Homo sapiens: one gene and its partners. The protein of the gene in region 4 interacts with the protein of the main gene of each other region in a pairwise test. Each region holds a gene or a part of one and is shown on either strand. Other genes may lie near its edges.

Region 1 (2,871 bases), on a different chromosome or scaffold from region 4:
TGTCACAGTCAGGAAGCTAACACTTCTTATATATAAGATAAAAATACCAAACTGGGTTATTGAATTGTGTGAAGATAAAATCTAAAAACTGTAAGAATTAGAACTTGCAGCCATACGCAGTCACTTCCTGCCTGTAATCCCAGTACTTTGGGAGGCCAAAGTAGGAGGATCGCTTGAGGCCAGAAGTTCAAGACCAGCCTGGACAACATAGCAAGGCCCTATCTCTATCCAAAAAAGTGAAAAAAAATTGCCAGGTGTGGTGGCATGTACCTGTAGTCCCAACTACTTGGGAGGCTGAGGCGAGAGGATCGCTTGAGCCCAGGAGTTAGAGGAGGCAGTGAGCTCTGATTGTGTCACTGCCTGGGTGACAGAGTAAGACCCTATCTCTTAAAAAAAGGAAAAAAGGCTGGGCGCAGTGGCTCACGCCTGTAATCCCAGCACTTTGGGAGGCCGAGGCGGGCAGATCACGAGGTCAGGAGATCAAGACCATCCTGGCTAACACGGTGAAACCCCATCTCTACTAAAAATACAAAAACTTAGCCGGGCGTGGTGGCGGAAGCCTGTAGTCCCAGCTACTTGGGAGGCTGAGGCAGGAGAATGGCAAGAACCTGGGAGGCGGAGCTTGCAGTGAGCCGAGATCGCGCCACTGCACTCCAGCCTGGGTGACAGAGCGAGACTCCATCTCAAAAAAAAGAAAAAGGAAAGAAAAGAACTGGAACTTGGATTTTATTTGCATGATCCAAGCACAGAGTACAAAAAGCCTAAACAATTGCTAGTTTTAGAGCCTACATCCTGGGAAGTGTGGTTGTTTTTCAGAAGACTTCCATAAATTTCTGGTCTAATTTGATGGGGAAAATTCACTTCCAGAAGTGCTAAAAGGAAAAGGTCCAGTTTTGTTATGGAAAGTTATTTTTTCAACTAGAATTTCAAGATCCATATTATTGCTCCATGTATTAATAACAGTGCTTTCCTGAGCCATATGTGCATATTTCTCTTTGGGACAACAAAATGTTGATATGAATACCAGATACTTAGTCAGAGTTAAGTCAAATACTGAATGAATAAAAATGAGGTCTAAAGGGGAAGACAGCACTTCATCTTTCAGCAGATTTTCTTTTGCCAGACAAAAATGTCTATTCAGAGACTCGGCCTTCCTATAGCCATCCTATCTAAATGCGCCAGCTATATCCAGGATGTGGATTGTTTTAGGGCTCATAAAGTGTCTCATAAACTTATAATGAAAGGGTTAAGTCAGTTCAGGTCTTTAAAGAATGCTTTGAAAGAATTTATATAAGCTTTGACTACTTACCTTACAAAATTGAAAGTTCAAGGGTTCTCAGCAGTTGAAGAGAAGTAATGTTAGTAATTCTCAACTTTGACTAAAACTGCCTTCTAGTTTGAATAGCATCTTTTATGTTCTTTGTCTCCTTAATTCTGGAAAAGAATAGTTTCAAATATATATATATATATATAATTATATATATATATAAAAGGTACCTTAAAATGTATGCTTCTTTTTTCAGGAAGCTGTGCTGAATGGTTTGGTGGCCACTGAGGTGTTGATGTGGTTTTATGTCGGAGAGATTATAGGCAAGCGGGGCATCATTGGCTATGATGTTTGAAGACCAATCTTTAACATCTGATTATATTTGATTTATTATTTGAGTGTTGTTGGACCATGTGTGATCAGACTGCTATCTGAATAAAATAAGATTTGTCAAAACTCAGTGTTTTCTCCATCAGATACTCCATGAAAGGTCACAATTTCTCTTGATATTAAGCTGGGTTGTCTTTAAACAACCCTAAATACACGTCTGTTTAGCCCGCAATTGGAAAGGATATATGTGGCAATATTAACCTGGTACATGAATATATGGGGATAACATTTTAATTTGAAGGTTTGGAATATATATATTTAAGCTTTATTTCCAGAACAGTGAGGGTTAGGTCTTGGGAAAACTATAACTTGCCAAAGTAGAAGAAATAGTAGTACCATATGCCAAAGTGATAGAGATGAATCATGTCAGTAGTTAGAATAACATTTCAACTGTTTTCTTTGCTAAAATCACAGAAAGACCCTATTGACAACATCTATGTCTGTAAAAATGTTAGAGTACTTGTCATCTTGAATATAGCCTCCCCAAGAGAGAACAGGGTGGTATTCTAAGTATGTTTCTTTGTAACATCTTTAGCAGTAGGACAGAGCCATACATGTGAAATCTGATTTTTATGTGTGTTATTCGTTTGTCTGGTTTTACTACCTTTGCAAAAACAAAATACCCCAAAGATATTTAAACAAGGTTATAATTTAGCATCTTCCCTGGATCTAAATAGTATATTATATCCTGAAATAAATGAAATGATTGCTATAGTCTGTCTTCTGGAGCGATTTTATTGGGTATATAGGAGAGATTGATCATTCCTTAGCTTTTCCCCGGGATCTTAGAATCCTTAATTGACTCATTGGTACTTTCCTAAATCCACTGTTATTCTTGCAGCCACAGCAAAACATGCAATACCAACTGATGATAACCAAAAGGTGGTTGCATATTTATTACAAAAGCATTATGGCTCACAATACAGTATTAATCCTTTAATAGTGTTGAACCTTTATCCGGTCAATCCCAAATTTACCCACTGCATTTAGAACACTGCTATTTTAGCCTAATAAACGTCACAGCTTATCTAAGTGATAGGCAAGAAAGTCTCCATAGAGACTGCCACGCTGCTAAAATGTGAAGTAATGCCTAACTTACTCCTGCAATAAACAGGTGGTCAAAACTGAAATGACCTCTTTTCAAAAAGTACTCAAAAAGACTGATATGAGAAAGGCAATCAGTTTCTTTTTCATACAGTGCATGATTATTCAAA
Region 2 (4,256 bases), on a different chromosome or scaffold from region 4:
GTTCTGCGGTGGGCAGAGCCTTGCAGAATAACAGGGCTCTCCACGTGGCGGGGATTTCACAGCTGACCTGTGCGGTCCCAGAGGCCCACAGTGGCCCAGGGGGTTTGCACTGAGCCCCGGAGCATGGAGGGACAACATTGGGATCAGAGTCACACCTCTGGACTTGCCAAGGCTGTTTCCCCTAAACCACGGTGTTTCTGCCTTTGTCCACACACATACACACACACAGTGGCACAGTGTGTGTGTGTGTGTGTGTCCCAAGTGTGTGCAGTGTTTGTGTTTCTGGTTGAGACTGGATGTTTTTATCTTTGGGCTGTCTCCATGAGATGAGGGGGCACCTGAGTGTGTCTCCTGGGTGCACTGCTGTCTGCAAATGAGAACATCTGTGGGCATTTGTGTGTTCTGGGCACAGTTCCTTGGGCCTGTGAGTGGGTCCGGTTGTGTGTGTGTAACAGTGTGGATGAGTGTGTGTGTGGATGCGTGACTGCATGTGAGTGTGTGTGTGCACATGAATGCTATAGTCAATATGTGTGTGCATGTGTGTGTAGATGTGAATGGAATGTACGTGTGTGTGTGTATGGGAGTATAAACGTGTATGTGACGGTGCATGCATGAGTGTGTAAGCATATATATATAAGTGCAGTGTGTGCTTGTATATGGGAGTAAATGCTTATACATGTGTATGTGTGTGTTGTGAGTCACTGTGCGCAATGTGCGTGTGCATATGTGTGATTGTGTATGTGTAAGTGGGTATATCCATGTGAGTGTATGCATGTGTCTATATGCGTGTGTTGTATGTGGGTGTGAGTGCATAGCGGGAGTAGTAAATGGGTATGTGTGTGTGCATATGTGAGTGTGTAATGAGAGTAGGTGGGCGTGTGTGTGTACCTGTGCATATGTGTGTGTGCATGTGTGTAATGAAAGTAAGTGGGCGTGTCTGAGTGTGTGCATGTGAGTGTGCATGTGAGTGTGTAATGGGAGTAAGTGGGTGTGTCTGAGTGTGCCTGTGCATATGTGTGTGCATGTGAGTGTGTTGGAATAAGTGGGCGTGTCTGGGTGTGCCTGTGCATATGTGTGTGCATGTGAGTGTGTAATGGGAGTAAGTGGACGTGTGTGTGTGCTGTGCATATGCCAGTGAGTGTGTGCGTGTGGCTGTGTGCCTCCCCCGGGCCAGTGTCCCTGAGGCCCTGGCTGTGTCTGCAGCTGTACCCACGGTGGTCGCGTCCCTGCAGGGGTCCCCCTTGCCCTCCTCGGCTGTGGGGCTCTGCCCGCGCATCCCTGCCACCCTGACCCTGACCCCCGACCGTGGGGGCGGAGTGAGGCTCCCCCAAACCCGTGCCTCTGGCGGTGACTGGGGCCGCGGATCCCCGCGTGCGGCTTCGGGAGGTCTCCGGGCCAGAGCGGGCGTGAGTCTGGGCCGAGGCCGGAGCCGGTGGAGCGGCGTTGTTGGAGGTGGCCGTTGTGTAACCGCGAGGCTGTGGGCGAGGGGACGGCGGTCCCCGTGTGTGGGGAGAGGGGGCGGCGAGGAGCAGGCGGGGAAGAGCTGCTCAGGGCTGTGCCAGCCGTGACCCAAATAGCTCAGAACACAGCACTCATCCCCTCCGCGCTTTTCTGGGACCCCCTCCACGCCCCCTGAGCTCTCCAATCCCAGCCCCCTTCTCCCAGGAGCAACCCAAGACGGAGCCCAGGGGCTCAGGCCCCATCAGCAGGGCCAGGACCCGTCCTGGGGCCACATCGGGACTCCCAGCACCCCCACCCGTCCCCAGCTCAGCCAAGCCTTTCTCCTCATTAATCTCGAAGTCAAGGACTTGAATTAAACTGGGTCAGGGGACAGCTCTTTCGCCCATTGGAGCTGCCCCGAGCCGGGCCCCTTCCCCAGGGACACCGGCTTCTGTGAGGTTCCCACACCGGCCCCACCCTCGGGACCCGGGTCTGTCATCCCGAGGCTCCCCAAACCCAGCCTCATCTCGGCCCTCACCCCTGCAGCGCCCTGACCACCCCTTCTTTCTTGGGACGGGCAAGAAGCTTCCTCTCCCAGAGCCCCTTCATTTTCCAGCCCTGGTCCTCAGCCCCTGAAGCCCCCTTCCCCATTTCAGACTCTCAATCCCATCCCAGCACCGCAGCAGCCAGCGTTTTCCCCGCCACCGTTATCAGGTCCGCTGTCTCCTGGGTCCCACCTTATCTGGGACATATTCACCTGCTCTGATCCTGTGGGGCAGGGTCATCTTTTAGGGCAGGAAGAGTAGACCTACCCTCCCGATGACCCTGGAGGCCGGCTTCCCAGGCAGGTATCAGACACCCGGGAATCCGGGCCCCCCTCCCCTCCTCTCCATGAACTCAGGGGTGCAGGTCCCCAGCCTTCCCTTATTTAGAGAGCTCGAGGTCTGGACCCCCAGCGCGCGTCCCAGGAGAACCTCCAGGCATGGGCGCCCCCAGGCTCCTCCTCCCTCCGAAACCCCAAAGTCCGGGCCGGCCCCCAGCCTCCGGCGGAGCTCAGGAAATCTGTGACCCAGCCCCCTTCTCCCTCGGGACCCAGGAGCTCCGGCCCCCAGCCCTGGCCCCCAGGCCCTGGCGCCCGGTCCCACCTGCTGGTATTCCTGCTCTTGGGGCGCGAAAACGCTGGGCACCGGGCGGAGCTGGAAGTCGGCGCGGGGCAGCTGGTGGAGGAGATGCACCCAAGCTGAGGGCCGGTAGCCCGGGGGCGCCCCCATGGCCCCCGGGGGAGGGGGCAGCGGGGCGGACGCCGGGGCTGCGGGAGCCTCCGGAGTCGAGCGGGGCGCGGGCGGCGCGGGGTCTGGCTGGGCTCAGGGGAGCGGGAGCGGGGGGGAGGCAGGGGGTGGGGGGCGGAGATTGGGGGGAGGGAGGCGCGGGCCGGGCGGGGACGGTGCTGCCCCTGGTGGTCGCGGCGGGGACTGCGGGAGTCGGGAGGCCCCCAGCGCTCCGCGCCCCACCCCGGTCGCGGCTCCCACCTGCTGCCCGCGCAGGTACCGCGCTGCTGGCGTCGGCGGCATCCGGACAGCTGGCTTGCATCGCGATTGAAATCAGCCCTCCTTGTCCATACGAGGCCACTCATACTGTTATTTCACCTAAAACATAATGATCCCTTTATCCTTATGGAGAAACTTCATGTCTGTGTAAAGGTTGCTAGTAAGTACAGAGCGTTTTACAAAGAACGGCCAATTCCATGGATAAGAAGTCCTCTGTGTACGAAAGTGCTCCCACCTGTAAAAGATGCCCGTATTTGTGTAAAATCTCCGTCCCACTTTTATTCCTAGCCTGCATAAGGACACAGCTTCTAAGCACAAACACTCCTATGTGTAGAGGCTACTCCAGAATGTATGGAAAAATCCACACGCCTGTGTAGCAAGCCTTCATGCTGCATAAGGACCCCTTCTACCTGCATAAGGACCCTGGTCATCTATATAGGGGCCCTTCCCATCCTGTAAACTGACTCGGGATTACTTCGGTGTATACAAGGACCCCTGCCCCTTGGCATTCGCCATACAGTTACAGAGTATTTTTCCAGCCACTCCCCATGTTACATCTCACTGGAATCCTCCGATGCCACACCGATAGATGGGGAAGTGCCAACCCTGGGAGGGGACCTGGCCACCCTGACATCATCACCCAGACTGTCACTATTGCAGCCAAAACTAGGTGCTCAGGAATCTGGCCCCAGGGGTCCCCTCTTGCTGTAGGGCAGGGTGAGACTTTGCCATCTGGAAACCACACACGTGGCCTCTCTTGTGGGAATTGGGATGAGTGGAAGAAAGGGAGATTAGTTCTCCACTTAACCCATTTCCATATTTTGCTCCAGATTGGCAAGAAAGGGCTAGGGAAAAGAGGAATGCTGGTGGTAGCGGAGGTGGTGGTGATGACGATGATGGTGGTGATTATGTTGGTGATATGATGTCATGATGATGGTGATGGTGGTGATGGTGATGATGATGGTGGTGGTGGTGTTGATGATGGTGATGGTGATGATGATGATGATGGTGAAGACATGATTATGTTGACATGTCATGATGATAATTATGATGATGATGGTGGTGGTGATGGTGGTGACGGTGGTGATGATGGTGATGGTGGTGATGATGTTGGTGATGGTGATGGTGGTGGCGATGGTGGTGGTGGTGATGGTGGTGATGGTGGTGGTGATGATGGTGGTGATGGTGATGATGTTGGTGATGGTGGTGGTGGTGGTGATGGTGGTGGTGATGTTGGTGATGGTGGTGATGATGTTGGTGATGGTGGTG
Region 3 (2,707 bases), on a different chromosome or scaffold from region 4:
GATAAAGTTGAGTTGAAGGGAAGAATTCCCAGGGCCCCATAAGGCTTAAAGAGCCTGGGAAACTGGAGTGGCATTTACATTGGAGGAGTGGAGGGCAATGGTGGATGTTAGGAGGACGAGCCTAGAGAAGGGCTTTATGCAACATACACTTGAGGGTGGAAAGAACGATCAGCGTCACAATTAATCTGCAGCAGTTAGGGAACCCATGGTTCCTGTATAGGGTTAAAAAGTACATGTGAGATGGATTGAATGTGGCTAACCCTTGTATTTTTCTAGTACAAGTTGTGCAAAGTGAGAAAGATCTTTGTGGGCACAAAAGGAATCCCTCATCTGGTGACTCATGATGCCCGCACCATCCGCTACCCCGATCCCCTCATCAAGGTGAATGATACCATTCAGATTGATTTGGAGACTGGCAAGATTACTGATTTCATCAAGTTCGACACTGGTAAGCATCCTCTGTGCTACCTGGGCACCCTCTTTAAGGCCTAGATCATTATGAATTGCACAGGGTCTGGGTATCTTTATTAAAAACCATCTGCTCCAATCGCCCAGGTGTGTTTATAGCCAGAGGCACAAATGCTCAGAATACTCATTTCTTTTCTTTAAATTGTTTGTTTTTTATAGAGGAGGGTCTTACTGTGTTGCCCAGACTGTTCTCGAACTGATTATAGGTGTGAGCCACCAAGCCTGGCCACAAAATTTCTTACGAGAGTCCCGGGAGTCCTAGCATAGGCAGCAGTTCCATATGAGGAAATTCAAATGGGGGGAAAGGAGGAATAAAATTTGTTTGGACCCATCTCTGAGCTGCTTGTCATTTGTTATATTGAGTTGAAGCAGATTATTTCTTCCTGCCTAGGTAACCTGTGTATGGTGACTGGAGGTGCTAACCTAGGAAGAATTGGTGTGATCACCAACAGAGAGAGGCACCCTGGATCTTTTGACGTGGTTCACGTGAAAGATGCCAATGGCAACAGCTTTGCCACTCGACTTTCCAACATTTTTGTTATTGGCAAGGTAAGTCTGGGTTTTCCTTCTCTCTAGTCTGAGGAAATATGTAAATGCAGGTGGCTGCTGGGATTGTAGCATCCAGGCTCCTGGCTGGCTCTGCTGAACCTAGTGCAAAGCCTCTTCTGGATAGGACTCACGCAGAGCTGGGCTGAGTCATAATGATTAGCCTTAGGTACTACTAAACTTTGACTCACTTGAATAAATGGTAGGTGCCTGCTATGCACAATAAACTTCTAAGACATTAATTCTGAAGGGCATACGGTGAGTTTCATAGGACAGCCCCAGAAACCCAAGCAGTGGGTGCTTTTGGTAACCAGCATCTGTGTCTTGCAACTGCCTAGCTGATGCCAAGCACTCTCACAAACAGGCTTCAGTTCTGTTAAGTGAGGTGACAAATGTAGCATGTGCCAAGCCACTATGAGTTGGTGTGTGGTGGGTTTTGATTCTGCTTGTTTTCTCTTCCAGGGCAACAAACCATGGATTTCTCTTCCCCGAGGAAAGGGTATCCGCCTCACCATTGCTGAAGAGAGAGACAAAAGACTGGCGGCCAAACAGAGCAGTGGGTGAAATGGGTCCCTGGGTGACATGTCAGATCTTTGTACGTAATTAAAAATATTGTGGCAGGATTAATAGCATTTTGGTTTTGTGGGTTGTTTTTTTTTTTAATTCAGTTTCCTGCTATTTTACTGTATAACATGAACAGTGATTAAGTTCTCAGGCAGGCTTAGGCAGTCTGTTATTGGCTGGGCTTAGTTAGTGGTGGGAAGTAGAAGATACCAGACTTGGGAAAGGAACAGCAACTAACCAAGGAGTAGAAAGAGCCAAGAAATCCCGGAGTATTTATCTCCCCCGCCTTGACTTGGCCAAGAACTTCTCTACACAGTGGACCCCTCTGCCCTGTTAAGTTCCCTTGGCTTTCTAAAAATCTGCCCTCATTTTCTTCTCCAGTCTGTATTGCACTAGCCCATCCACAAGCCTGGCTCATCTGTTTTTCCCACTCCTGTGCCCATCTTGCCAAACGCAGGATGAAAATCTCCAGTTGCCATTAAAGGTGGTCATAAATGGGCTGTTGATGTTGCAAAGCATTGCAGTTCCTTGGACTTAGTGCCCTTATTCTCCAGCTGCCGCTGCAGTCCTCAACTCTGTTTTTCAGAGGACAGAGATGTAGAACATAAACTTGTTCTTGCTTGTCCAAATGTGTCGGGTCATGTCAGGCTTGCTTACCAGTCTCAGGAAGATGTGCCCCTGCTTCATGGGGCCTGCTGTTACACACCTGTTCCTCAATCCAGTCCCTCCAGTCTCAGTGTCAATTATCCTACCTTGTGATTTCAACCTTCTCTCAACCAACTCTCTTGTTCCTGTTACCCTATAAAGCATGTCTTCCTGTTAAAAACGAAAACCTCCCTTGCCACCTATAGCAGGGCTTTTCAACTTTGATACTGTTAACATTTGGGGCTACATAATTTGTGGGCAGCTGTCCTGTTTATTGTGGAATGTTTAACAACATTCCTAGCCTCTATCCACTAGATATTCACCCCCCACCCCCTGAGTTGTAATACAAAAATTACTTCAGACACTGCTAAATGCCCTCTGAGAAGCAAAGTTGCCCTGTGTTGAGAGGTACTGCCTTGTAGATGCTGTATCTCAGGTCACCTTCATTTAGCACCTTGCACTTAACTTGCTGTAGACCACTCAG
Region 4 (3,500 bases):
GTAGAAAGAAAGGAAGCCCCAAGATCAGGGTTCCACTCCTAGTTTTACTTCTAATAAGCTTTAGCTCTAAGGATCTTAATCCCTTCATGTTAGGATAAGCTTTGATCTGACTGATAAGGAAGGTAATACAGATAGTAGTTAAGAGCTCCGTCACTGGATACAGACAGATCTTCATTTGAATTACTATACTAGCTGTGACTGTGGATTAATTATTTAACTTCTCCAAACCTGTTTCCTTGTCTTTAAAATGAAGGTAATATAATTTATCTTAAAAGCAGGATATAAATGAGAATTAATATGTAAATATATATACTATATAATGCTTAGCCCATGCCTGTGATACTCAATTTTTAGTATTAATTACTAATAAGGTAATAGGTTCACAAAGCCCAATTCTAATAACCAGGGTACATTCACTAGAATTACTAGAGGTGCAAACAGATTAAGCAGATTTAAAAGGGAAGAAAATCTAGAAGCCTTTACTAATGTTCATGCTCTGCTAAAACCTTCTTCAGCCTGGTGAAGGAAGGGGCTGCTGGGTTCCTTTCACATACCTTTATGATCCCAGCATCTAACTGAGCTTGGCACAAGTAGGCAATAAAACATCTGTTTAATGTATAACATTTTTCTAAAAATTAACAGTAAAATTCAGAAATAATTTTATTTTGAAGTTCTAAGCATTTTCAAACTTAAAAATTAGATTTTGAAGAACACAATGTAGAAGTTTCAAAGTTGTGTACCTAAAAAAGCCTGTCAATGGATTAGTGGCATTCAACAATATTTAGGTTATTTCTTTCTGACATAAAGATAACTACTAAAGCTTAAAATTCATTTAATCCTAGAATTTATAAACCATTCTGTAAATCAGAACTATGTGTAGAAATTAATTTAATCTACCTACCATTTCATATCCAAAGACCAGTATCTTGCAGATGTATAAAGAGAATTATTATTAGACATAAACAACAGGAAAAGAAGCTACTGAAATCTGTAACAGTCTCATGTTATGAGAAAATTAGAGTGACAATAAAGATGTGTATGTAACTTTGAGCTTCAGGGCTATACATTTAAAGTCTGTACAGCAACTAATAAAGCGAGTGTAACTAAACCACGGCTATAGAAAATTTGAAATACATAAGAGAAAAACAGAAATGAAATGTAATCCAAATATCCAGAGATAACAATTGTTAATATTTTTTGGTTACTGACATTACTGCAAAATTATAACAAAAGCACTGATTTGTTCAAGAACTACGTGCCAAGTACCTTTAACATAAAATAAGCCCTAAGAAAGCTTTTTTAAAAATGAAGAGACATATGCAAACAATAATTGCAATATCACAAGTATTATAACATAGGTATTGTAAGATCACTGGGAGAACAAGTGAAGAATTCATTAAACTTTTTAGAACTAAAAAAGATGTGAATTCTCTGAATAACTAAATATATGCTTGAATATATTAAATATTACATTTAACTGTATATATTTGCCTATATTTCTCACTTCATCAAAAATTTTTAACATAAATTTGAAGTTAAAACCAATTCTACTACTATGTTTTTTTTTTTTTTTTTTTTTTGAGACAGAGTCTCGTTCTGTGGCCCAGGCTGGAGTGCAGTGGTGTGATCTTGGCTCACTGCAAGCTCCACGTCCAAGGTTCACGCCATTCTCCTGCCTCAGCCTCCCAAGTAGCTGGGACTACAGGTGTCTGCCACCACACCCAGCTAATTTTTTGTTATTTTTAGTAGAGACGGGGTTTCACCATGTTAGCCAGGATAGTCTCGATCTCCTGACCTCATGATCCGCCCACCTCAACCACCCAAAGTGCTGGGATTACAGGTGTGAGCCACTGCACCCGGCCTACTAATATGTTAATGACATCTCTAATAAATCTAAACATAAAGATATCCCTTATTAGAACTTTTTGCATTTCACTTACCATAAGCTGTTCCTGGGCCAAACTCAGTCCCTGCATCAATCATATATTGTCCCAAAAGTTCTGGGTTGTTTATACGACTTGGAGCTTTTCTATCCAGTTTCTCATAAACAAATTCTTCTATCCTGGCATCTAGGAGAAAGGTTAAAATTACCAATGATTTCTAAAAAGCAAAACTAATTAGAAGATTGTTTTTTTCCCCCATCAGCAGCCATTTATCATCTCCTAAAGTTAGCATTCATTCAAGCACATATCTTAATAAATAATTTTTTAAATTTTATGTTAGACTATTATATAACTAAAAAATTATATTTTAGAAATTTGATAAAATATCTTGGCACAAAAGCATTTTAAAATAAAATAAAATTATTATTTGAGTATTCTACAAGATTTTAAGTTCCAGAAAAGGACTGATTAATTCACTTAATATTTATTGAAGGTGTCTTTGCCCTGTTTGTAGCATTTTAACTCTAATTTTTACTCTGAATGTACATTCATAATTTCAAAATCAGGATTTCTGGCTAGGAAAATACAGATATAAAGTACCTGGAAGAACCAAAGACTTACATCTGACAGCTTTAGCATGAGCATTTGCTCTCTCTTTTTCTTGCCTAGAGTCTAAATATAGACACAGGCGCTTAAGGCATAGAACAATCCAGGCTTGGAATAGTCTACAGACAGATCAGCAATATGATGCCTTGGCTTTAGTTTATGTTTAAAGTATACAAGTATATCTCTGAGCATGCATTCACTCAAAAGATTTCATCATTAAAAATAAGTTTAAAATACGAAAGGTTAAAGCAATAATAGAACATTAGAATAAATGGAAAGGGGAAAAAAACAAAAGCTGAATAAACACTTGGTTAGCAAAATGCTTAAGACCAAAGATATTAACATTTACAATGCTGTCCAACCTAGAGGTATTTCAGGACAAGTGAAAAAATGGCTTAAGTTTCCAGAAACAACGATTAAGCATAAATTGAAGCTAAGTCAAATAGGTTCCCTCTAAGTACCTCACATAGATTCCTACGCATGCGGAAGTTTCACACAGTGCACTGAAAATTTAAAAAATGAGCTGAACCAGTAACAGAAACATTTCAGGAGTTGGTAAAAGGCTTAGTTATAATACATAAAATAGAGTATAGCAATGATACTTGCTTTTGTGGTAGATTCTAGTACAAAATCAGAAGTTTTAAAGCAGAAATTAAATACCTTTAAATAGTTAAAACCAAAAAGAGCTTTTTAAAACATAACCATTTAGAAGATACTAGTTAAATTTCAGAACTTCATTTTGGCCCGGTGTGGTGGTACATGCCTGTAATCCCAGCACTTTGGGAGGCCAAGGCAGGTAGACCACTTGATGTCAGGAGTTTGAGACCAGCCTGGCTGACATGGTGAAACCCCGTCTCTACTAAAAAAAAAAATACAAAAATTAGCTAGGTGTGGTAGCGCATGCCTGTAATCCCAACTACTCGGGAAGCTGAGGCAGGACAATCACTTGAACCCAGGAGGCAGATCTTGCAGTAAGCAGAGATTGTGCCACTGCACTCCAGCCCAGGTGAA
Region 5 (2,586 bases), on a different chromosome or scaffold from region 4:
GATAATTCAGGCTTAAAACCTGGAGTTGATCCTTCTGCAGAACTGGAAGTCAGAAAGTCTTTCTTTCCTTTTTATTTCTTGAGATTGAGATGTCTATCCTTGGTGTGTGTGTGTGTGTGTGTGTGCGCGCGCGCACGTTTGCATGCATGCAAGTGTGTGTGTTTAATTTTTGAGCAGTGGTATGCAATTCTCTTCAGTGTTCATCATGATACATTCTGCTAGCATGTAGTAGAAAAGATAGTCTAGGAGTCTTCAGACGTATGAAGTCAAGAGGATATGCACAATATAACACCATTTTGAAAGTAAAAAAAGTCCAAGTGCCTAAACTTAGTGGTATGTAAAGAGAATTATGAGGAGGGAAAGAAAATATAAAAATATGAGAAGAATTAGGCAAAGAATGTGATTGAAAGTATAAAAATAAGACTCAAACCAATAATTATAACTAAACATCCAGTATATGGAGTGATAACTTCTTAAAGAAATAAAGAGGAGGGGACAAATTTGTAAGCATCTCAATAAAGTATTTTATTGGCAGAATAAGCAAGAACCGAATCTAGTTGCCTAAGAAGAGGCCAACATTGCCACTGTTAGATTAAGAATCATGGGGGAAAAATGAGTGTTGAGCCATAGTCTAGCTATAGCTTCCCCAAGAATTTACAGAAATTCTCTTCTGGGGTACTGAATCCATAGGTGAATCTCTGGAAGGAGCACTGGCATTTGCTAGGGCTACTGTGCGGGCTGGAACTGAATATTGATTGTGTAAGAATATGTAAGAATGTACTCTGCCTGAAATCTTTTGCTCTAAAAGTTCATCATGGCCAACACTAGCTTTCAGAAATAAGCCAGATACAAGTCTTTTTGTGTAGAACAAAAGCTGATCCAGGTACCAGGGCATAGAAATATGAACAGAAACATTATCAGCACAGGACCCATACATTTTTATCTTCCAAGAGATAAAAGGAGAGGAGAGGAAGGGGGACAATTGAAATGGATATATATTTACACAATTTTTGAGGTATTGGACAGTATTTTTACTGTGTCTGGTTAAAATTAGCAAGCAAGTTTTTCCAACAGGAGGCAGTGCTGTTTTATGCTGTAATTTAAGTATAAAATTGATTTGTGCTATCAAATCACTCAAATTACATAAGTGAGGTCACAAGGCCTAACCTTGAGCTATGGGGGAAAAAGCAACCTTTAAGCCACAGCCTAAAAAAAGACTTTACCGAAGGGAATGGTGAATGCCAACTGTTCTGTAGCAGGAGAAAAGGATAAAATAAGCTGAAAGGGGTGGAAATACAGTAATTTGGGGGACCCTGTGCTTGAAGGGAAGTAAATTTCCTTAGGGCAGGAGAATATCATTAATACAATGACATGCTTGCGCGAAAGAATTTTCTGTTATCTATGGTAGAAAATTTAGAAAATGGTCAAAAGTCTGGTAGCTAGAAATCTAATATTAAAAAGGTACAGGAAAGTCAACTTTACAATTCATTTTCCAAACATTTGTTGATCCCACTTTCTATGCCAGGCACTGGGTTGTATAACGGGGATACAAAGATGAAAAAAAAAAGATCATAATCAAAGTATCTGAAAAAGAAAACCACTAAAGAAATGTTATTGAATGTAAAGGAAAACTGTAACTTCTTTAATAATACATTATTCAAATTCAAAGATGATAGCACATTTTGAGATTCAGATTGGTAATGTATCTTTGATTACACTTTGCAAATGTATTTGACAATTAACCATATACTACTACTTTTTATTACTGAGGTAGGAGGCAGGACTAGACTCTGGAGGTGGGGATTGGGCTCCAGACCACACTGAAGACAAGCTGAAAGGGAAGAGGTGAAAGAGTCTCTCCATAAAACACACTCACCAGTGCCACGTCAGGTTACCATTGCTAAGGCAACAGCTGGAAGTTTTGGCTCCTTTCCATAGCAACAATCCCACGACCTGGAAGTTACGACCTTTTTTCTAGAAATTTTGGCATAATCCACCCCTAAATTTGCATATAGTTGAAAGTGGGTATAAATGTGATTGCAGTACTGCTTCCGAGCTGCTACTCTGGGCACACTGCCTATTGGGAGCCCTGCTCCACAAAGCAGCTTTGTTGCTGCTGTACATTAAACCACTTTGATAAAAGTTGTTGTCTAACACCAGCAGCAGCACTGGCTCGTGCGCAAGTGACCGTGGACGACCACGCTGTGCCCTCCCTGCTGTCCCCTCTGGTCATCAAAGGATCCTTCCCTGGCTCGAGGCCCCTGCCTGGGCCCAGAAAGGCTGCTGAGGAAGCGAAAGGCAGGAATTAAACATGGGTTTTTCTTGAGCCACGCTTCAAAAAGTCCAACTCCCTGCAGCGGTCACCAAGGCCCTCAGGACCCCTCACCATAGCCTGCCCGAAGCCCGCAACCCACCTGGAACCTCCTGCAGTCCTTAGCCTGAGCTGGCAATTGTGCGCATGCTTGCAGACCCCTTCTTCCCAACGTGTGCTGGGGAAGACCCTAGGGCGCCTGCGCACACTCCCTCCTCCTCTTCCTCTTGAATAGAGCTAATGTGAATACCTGCTTCCCATGTCTCCATGACCTC
Region 6 (3,500 bases), on a different chromosome or scaffold from region 4:
AGACACCCTCTCTCTTTAGACTCTCACAAGTAGCCCCCTTTTGTGGGCCAGGAAGCCAAGAGCCGTTGCTGAAAAGATGGTGGTCAATCCAATCAGCCTGAGCAGGCCTGGCACGGAGGGCAAATGTCTCTCCAAAAAGGTGGTGGTGATGGGCTGTGCAGGGACATCCTAGGTTCAGAAAACATTGGGTATTAGTACAGGGCTTGTGCACTTTATTCCAGAAAGTCTGTACTTTCTCCAGCTCTCTGAACATGACCCATTCTTGCCAACGTCTAGACCAGTAAACACGATGTTCCCTCTGCTTATACTGTTTACCCTGTCTTCCTCACTGGACCCTTCACTTCCTCAGGGAGGCTTTCTTTCCTGAGACCCCAGCCTAGGATGACATTCTCCTTTTGCATTTTTTCTCAGCATGTCTTCTTCACTGTTCTGTACTTTTTGGTTATCATCTGCATTCTCCACCAGATGTTGAGCTCCACAAAAATGCTGCTGTGCCTTTGCCACAATGGCTGATACAGAACACGTGTGCCATAAATACTTGTTAGTAAATGAATCAATGGTCCCTACAGCCCACAATCCCATCCCTGGCAGAAGCACTAAGAGAATGACTGTGGAGTGGCAGGCCTATTCTCTTTGACTTCACACTTAAAAGGATAGAGCAATAATTCTGACCTTTGTGACTTTGTCCTCTAAAGTGCGTTTGCACTCTAACCTCTATGCATCCCTCCTTCCAGCCAGGAAAACTTCCTAGGATTTTATTACAAAAATGATGAGTATATTAAAAATAAAATTTTAATCTAAATATTCTCCATTTCATTCCATTTGTTTGTCCCTGGACAGGAGATGCTAACACACTTTCCTTTCTTTTCCTACCTCATGTGGAGAATCACCAGGCTAGATATTTATTTGACAGGCATTTATTGAGTTATTATTTTTAGAAGTCTCCGAGAAATGTCTCCCTCCTCATCAAAAAATATTTTTTCCTAATAATCTGTAATGAATGTGACAGCTACAAATTTATCAAAGTTCATCTAAATCTCTCACCTCTACCCTAACCCATGATACTTATTTAAACATTCATGTTTAAATCACTTAGTTGAATCACTTAGGAAAAGGTATGTGAATATATACAAGTGTGCTCTTCTTGAAAATAATGGGTTTAGAGAAAAGATATCTAATTTCATGAAATAAAACATAGCCTACCACAGACTCTGGTTCTGACTGCCAGATTTCATCCTCTGGAATCTTCCCCATGGCATGCAGGATCTGAAATGAAAGAACACACTGGCAAATAGCAAAAGTGACACCATCTTTCTTCTAATCTGCTCCCTAAAGGACTAAGTAACTGTCTCTTGAGATATCCATCAAAAACACCAAGGTAAAGGCCAGAACACTCCATACAACCTTTAAGAGGCGCCAAAAGGTCTTTCTCCTGTGGTATAAGAGGTTCCAATCATTAGGCTTACCATAAATTTTAATAGTTATGAACACACCTCAAATAGGGATGACATCAGAGGAACTGTCAGAAAATCTTTCCTGTGAAATGAATTGAATTTTGAGTCCTAATAGAAGCATGTTTGGTTCTAGAATATCAGACCTAGGTTACCTTTCAAGTATAGTCAGGTTGATCGTTTGCCCCATGGGCTCTTTTTACTTCGGGTGACATGTTAGGTATTTTCATTATTACTTCGGGCTAAGGTGTTCACTTCACCTGAGACAATAGTTAAAATAGTATTTTATGGGTCTTAAGATGGGGGTTACTGGAGAGTTGGTCTCCAGGCTCTCAGATATCTTTGACCTACATGTCAGGACCATGAGTTGCCTCCTTCCCCATAATCTATGACCCCAGACCCTACCTCTCGGGCTGCTCTCTCCCCGGCCTCTACAGCCCCCTCCATGTAGCCGCTCCAGTGTGTGGCAGTCTCGGTGCCTGCAAAGTAAATCCTGTCCACTGGCTGGCGTAGAACCCTTGGAACAAAACCAAAGAGGCAAAAGTGGTCAGTCTCAGAGAGTCAGAGAAAAGTTTTCCCATAAAGACCAATGCTGGTCAGCTTCCACAGATTCTAAACAATCAAGAAGGACATTGGCAATTTTGGAATAATGTTTATGTGGTTCCTCCAGCTCTTACATGATCCTTGTCACAAACAAAATAGAATAAAAGCCAAAGTTCACTCCTGCACCAAGAGTTGCAGGTGAAGGAGCTGACATTAATGGACGTAAATTATGTATTTGCTTCATCAACATGAAGTGAGGGACTGTGTAAGCCCAGTCACATGGCTCCCTTTATGGCTCACTGGCTCTGTGGCAAGGTGATACATGCCCCCAATTCCCCACTGGCTATTCCACTAGTGAACTTGGCAAATCACTTACTCTCACTGTGCTCTGGCTTCCTTGCCTCTTAAAGGGAATGGTCCACTGATTTCTAAGACCCTTTCAATCAGTAACATTTAACAAATCTGAGAGTCTGACTATGGCTCCATAACTCCTATTCCTTGAACACTTGCCTGTACTGGTGAGGTCGGTACTATTATTATCACCATTTTGCAGATAAGAATATGGAGGTAGACTGTGGTGGACATTGTGATGAACCACGCAGGCCCCCTTCAAGAATGAAAGACTTATTCCCAGCTGCTGGGAGTGCTGCCAGAAGAGGGCCTACTGATGTCAGCCCTCTTTGGAGATTGCCTCTGCTAAAAAAAACTATGTTACCTACTAGGTCATGCCTCCTTCCAATAGCAGTTGCATCCAGTGACTGATCACCACGGGCTGTAAATACCTGATTCCCAAGCTCCAACTTGAGACCTCCCACTCTGAAGGGCCATTCTAGTTCTGGAACTTCCTCTGGGGTCAGCTGAGGCCTTCACTGGAACTGCACTGCAGCCCAAGTTCTCCCTATGCCCACTCCTGCTTCCTTCTCCCTTCCACAGCTGCCAATCCTAAGGGCATGCCTTAATATATATCCTGTCTGCTAATCGTTGTTTCAGGGTCTGCTTCCTGGAACCTAACCAGCAACAAAGACAAAGTAATTTGCTCTCGGTCACAGCTAGTAAGTAGCAGAGTTGGTATTTGAACACAGGCAATCTGACTCTGGAACCTACAGTCTTAACCACTTAGTTATACTTCCTCTCTCTACTGCATTATTTCTTCAATCTATTAAAGAACTCTGTGATGTAGCTACTATTATCATTATCTCATTTTTACATATGAGAAGACTGAGGCTTGGAGAAATGTTCAGTGATATGCCAAGAGCCACACTCCTAGAAAATAGCAAAGCCAGGATTTGAACCATGTCTAACAGATGTCAAAGTCTCTATTTTTATCTTATATTCTTTGCCTGGTGTATCATCACCCTATAATATTTAATAGTTAGTAGACTGCCCACATGCTATACAAGGGACTGAAATGTCATAGCACTTGGCCTGTAAGAGGGGCAGTTCATTGTTGCTCTGACAAAAATACCATAAGGAAAGCACCGTCAACATGCCATTATTCATCCTGTC
Region 7 (3,500 bases), on a different chromosome or scaffold from region 4:
TAAAGAGATTTAAATGTTTCGGCATGTAAGTGATAGTAGAAGCCATGAATCTCAGTTAAAGTACCCAAGAAGAAGACAGCAGGGATGGCAAAGATGTGACACATGTTCTGTTATCCCTTCCTTCCTACCTATGCAGATCCCAGTATTCCTACCCACTGGGTAGGACACCACTCAAAATCCTTTCAAATCCAGTCCTTTCAGGGAACTGCCAGTAATACAGAAGTGTAAGTATAACCTATTTGTCAGCCCTGATGTAAGAAGGCCAAGAAACATCAACATTTAAGGAATAATTGAACAACTGAACAAAGACAAACCAATGGAAAATAAGAGGGGAAAATCAAGAGGATGGAGTTATAAAAATCAATAGAAGGGGCTGGGGTGCAGTGGCTCACGCCTGTAATCCCAGCACTCTGAGAGGCCAAGGAGGGTGGATCACCTGAGGTCAGGAGTTCAAGACCAGCCTGGCCAACATGGCGAAACCCTGTCTCTACTAAAAATACAAAAATTAGCCAGGTATGGTGGTGGACACCTATAATCCTCCTGTAGGCAGGAGAATCGCTTGAACCCAGGAGGCAGAGGTTGCAGTGAGCCAAGATCACACCACTGCACTCCAGCCTGGGAGACAGAGTGAGACTCCATCTCAAAAAAAAAAAAAAAAAAAAATCAATAGAAGGAAAAGGAACAAAAATTAACAAGTGCCCAATATATAACAGGCATTATTTGGTGCTCTACAACCTATCTCATTTAATTCTTCAAACGGCTCAGTGGAATTATTAGTATTCTCTCCATTTTACAATTAAGGAAACAAACACGGAAAGGTCAGATAATTTTCCCACAATTGTAAAGGAGGTAAAGTTTAAGCCTAGGACTATCTGACTCCACCCATTACAGCACTGCTTTCCACAGACTGTAGAATGAATGTACTTAACGTCTTCCTCCAGCCAAGCATTATGGACCACAGATGCTCCTTTACTCAACCTCTGAGTATTTGTTTGGGCTCAGGATATGAAAGCCCCAATTATTTTACATGCTACAACTAATATTAGCTGGCTTAATTCTGAACTTTTCCCTCTAAACAAACAAATATGTTCTATTCAGACACCGATTAAAACTATTTTGAATGGTTTCAAAAAAAAAAAAAAAAAACTTACCAAAAAGGGGGTGGGGGAATAATAATCCTGATTTATGACAGTTGCAGTTCATATTATTGAAAGCTCACATGCAAGGATTAGTCTATTACTTCATGGAACATAAAAACATAAAGTACAATAGGGTGAAATTTAGTTTAGGATGACCTAAATAAGTTTATAACAATTTAACTCATAAAGGCACACCATGCTTACATACCTAAAGCTATCATGAAAGGAGGATACAGTAGGCAAAGATCCGTTCTGTAGGTATCATTCACTATCCTCCTATAGAAATGTAAATCATATTATTACTGAAAGCAGAACTACCTCATCTGATTGTATATTTCCTCCAGAGAGGGCCAGATTTCCCATCTTTGCACACATTTATTTCCTTTTATACTACTGAAGCACAGCTATAAAAGTGAAAACATCAAGGCAAAAGGATGGATACATGAATGTGACAACAAATAAGCACATATCAATGAATAAAATTACAGCTAAATATATTTTAAATTTCAAAATCTCATAACAAATTATAAACACATTTTTCTAATTTTTTAAAAATCAGAAAAATCAAATTAAAAAACCAGAAATTATACAGTAAATTTATATGTATGTTGCAGACTACCAAAAAGTATTCTGATTACTTTAAAGATAACTTCAGTCTTAATTTTTATGTTAACAGTCTGTGTTTTGTATAAAATTAAATTTTAATAGGTATATTTATGGAACAGATAATTTAGGATTGTTTTCATTTTGGCATTTACACCACTATAGTTATTAAAATTCAACAAGTGGTATTTTGCTCAACATAAAATATCTTGGGGCAATAGTTTAATGACTTTAAAAATACTTAACTTCATATTTAATTGTCAACCTTCCTATCTAATAACATGTTACACTATTAATAACTTCTGTTCTAATTACCATGCAAGGGGAAGCAACATGTCTTCTTGGCCCATGTCCTGCACATACTGGAGCAAAGGTCTATAAGGATGATACACTATCAAGCAACAATCCTAGAAACAGTTTAAAAAATGTGTATGTATAAAAAACAGATTTATTACAACACAAAAATGTTATCATTACCCAACTGATTTGTAATTGTGTATTTCAAAGTGAATTTCACTAACTCATGCTTGCTTCCCTTTTATTCTCTTAAGCTAGCAGTATGACAGCCCTAAACTCTACCGTAATAGTGAAGGCAGTGCTCTCTCTGGAATATACCTTGATAAATCGGTTGGCAGTCAGTCAGCATCCATTCATTCCCTTAGAGACTCAAAGTGTCACATCTGCAACACACTGAAACCTCTTATTAGCCTATAAATTCATAATTCCCAACTGGAGGAGCAGAATTCTGCCAAAGACATAATCTATCTTTAAATAACACTGCACGCACACACAAATTGTGCACATAATTTATGGTGGTTTAATGTCCTGACTTGTCTGTTTGTAATCCTTTCATTATAGTTACTTACTATAGAACAGAAAAATTTTCCCATCCTAAGTAGGATATACAAATTATTTTACAGGCTTCAGAGAGACTCTAGGTGCTAATATAAATAGGCTACCATGATTTCACCATCACATATTAGGTGGATGGTTTTAAAATGTACCTCTCTAAAATCATTTCTTTAAATAATTTCCAACTTCATTTAATTTAAAAATGTTTTAATCTATTAATCACAGAAGATTTACTTACCATTAGTTCTAACAGATAGAATTCACATTCTAATATCTGTTTAAAACAAAGATTATCAATGAAATGTCAATATGAAACCAAATTAGATAAGTCCACTTAATCTAACATAAATTACAGACATTATAGTAATTTATCAAAAATTTTTACTAAAAAGTTTTAAAAATCCAGACAATAAACATAGTTTATATTAAAATAAATATCTGCAATAAAAAATTACTATTAGAAATGCAATTATGATTATAAGGATTTTAATCCTTGTAAGGAAAAGCCAGCTTCTCACAATCATTCTTATTACTCACTTTTATTTAAAATATCCTGTAAAACCATCAGATTTTCCAGTATACTTTCTACTCAGCAAATGCAAAAATACAATTATTTCTACTTAATTTAAAAAATGTAACTTAAAGAGAATAAACAAATCCCTTGCAAGGTGGAAAAAGGACATACCTATTAAAATGTCAATAGAAATTCACCTTATATTTCATATTGTTCCATTAGTTTTTAATCCCAGCTAAATAGTAGTATCACCTGGGACCTTTTACACAGTACCAATGTTGGGAGCCCCAAGGCTGAAAATTCTGATTTTGTTGTTCTGGAAAGGATCCAACATCAGTATTATTTACAAGTTCCCAAGGTGATTTAATGAGCAGCCAGGGTTGATAATCGCC

Evidence for each region.
Region 1: the proteins of SH3GLB1 (region 4) and ATP5MG interact in binary tests that used the Homo sapiens proteins (3 or more experiments, as listed by UniProt).
Region 2: the proteins of SH3GLB1 (region 4) and TTYH1 interact in binary tests that used the Homo sapiens proteins (3 or more experiments, as listed by UniProt).
Region 3: the proteins of SH3GLB1 (region 4) and RPS4X interact in binary tests that used the Homo sapiens proteins (3 or more experiments, as listed by UniProt).
Region 5: the proteins of SH3GLB1 (region 4) and GIMAP1 interact in binary tests that used the Homo sapiens proteins (3 or more experiments, as listed by UniProt).
Region 6: the proteins of SH3GLB1 (region 4) and MAOB interact in binary tests that used the Homo sapiens proteins (3 or more experiments, as listed by UniProt).
Region 7: the proteins of SH3GLB1 (region 4) and CCNC interact in binary tests that used the Homo sapiens proteins (3 or more experiments, as listed by UniProt).

The regions. Positions count from the first base shown.
Region 1 is NC_000011.10:118,407,477-118,410,347, forward strand, and holds the end of ATP5MG (ATP synthase F(0) complex subunit g, mitochondrial), read left to right. Parts: intron 1-1,523; coding exon 1,524-1,622; 3' UTR 1,623-2,371; downstream 2,372-2,871. UniProt on the Homo sapiens protein: Subunit g, of the mitochondrial membrane ATP synthase complex (F(1)F(0) ATP synthase or Complex V) that produces ATP from ADP in the presence of a proton gradient across the membrane which is generated by electron transport complexes of the respiratory chain.
Region 2 is NC_000019.10:54,414,008-54,418,263, reverse strand, and holds the start of TTYH1 (protein tweety homolog 1), read right to left. Parts: upstream 2,801-4,256; 5' UTR 2,712-2,800; coding exon 2,586-2,711; intron 1,163-2,585; exon of another isoform or gene 1,129-1,162; coding exon of another isoform or gene 1-1,128. Other genes in the region: LIM domain-containing protein A-like, read right to left, coding at 1-1,128. UniProt on the Homo sapiens protein: Calcium-independent, swelling-dependent volume-regulated anion channel (VRAC-swell) which plays a pivotal role in the process of regulatory volume decrease (RVD) in the brain through the efflux of anions like chloride and organic osmolytes like glutamate.
Region 3 is NC_000023.11:72,271,542-72,274,248, reverse strand, and holds the end of RPS4X (small ribosomal subunit protein eS4, X isoform), read left to right. Parts: intron 1-276; coding exon 277-448; intron 449-859; coding exon 860-1,017; intron 1,018-1,476; coding exon 1,477-1,578; 3' UTR 1,579-2,207; downstream 2,208-2,707.
Region 4 is NC_000001.11:86,718,076-86,721,575, reverse strand, and holds part of SH3GLB1 (endophilin-B1), read right to left. Parts: intron 2,070-3,500; coding exon 1,941-2,069; intron 1-1,940. UniProt on the Homo sapiens protein: May be required for normal outer mitochondrial membrane dynamics. Required for coatomer-mediated retrograde transport in certain cells. May recruit other proteins to membranes with high curvature. May promote membrane fusion.
Region 5 is NC_000007.14:150,722,199-150,724,784, reverse strand, and holds the end of GIMAP1 (GTPase IMAP family member 1), read right to left. Parts: 3' UTR 501-2,586; downstream 1-500. UniProt on the Homo sapiens protein: May regulate lymphocyte survival. Required for normal levels of mature T-lymphocytes and mature B-cells.
Region 6 is NC_000023.11:43,767,451-43,770,950, forward strand, and holds part of MAOB (amine oxidase [flavin-containing] B), read right to left. Parts: intron 1,969-3,500; coding exon 1,857-1,968; intron 1,267-1,856; coding exon 1,204-1,266; intron 169-1,203; coding exon 16-168; 3' UTR 1-15.
Region 7 is NC_000006.12:99,548,161-99,551,660, forward strand, and holds part of CCNC (cyclin-C), read right to left. Parts: exon of another isoform or gene 2,869-3,500; coding exon 2,833-2,868; exon of another isoform or gene 2,433-2,832; coding exon of another isoform or gene 2,409-2,432; exon of another isoform or gene 2,150-2,408; coding exon 2,058-2,149; intron 1,416-2,057; coding exon 1,348-1,415; intron 1,240-1,347; coding exon of another isoform or gene 1,229-1,239; exon of another isoform or gene 1,152-1,228; intron 225-1,151; exon of another isoform or gene 137-224; intron 1-136. UniProt on the Homo sapiens protein: Component of the Mediator complex, a coactivator involved in regulated gene transcription of nearly all RNA polymerase II-dependent genes.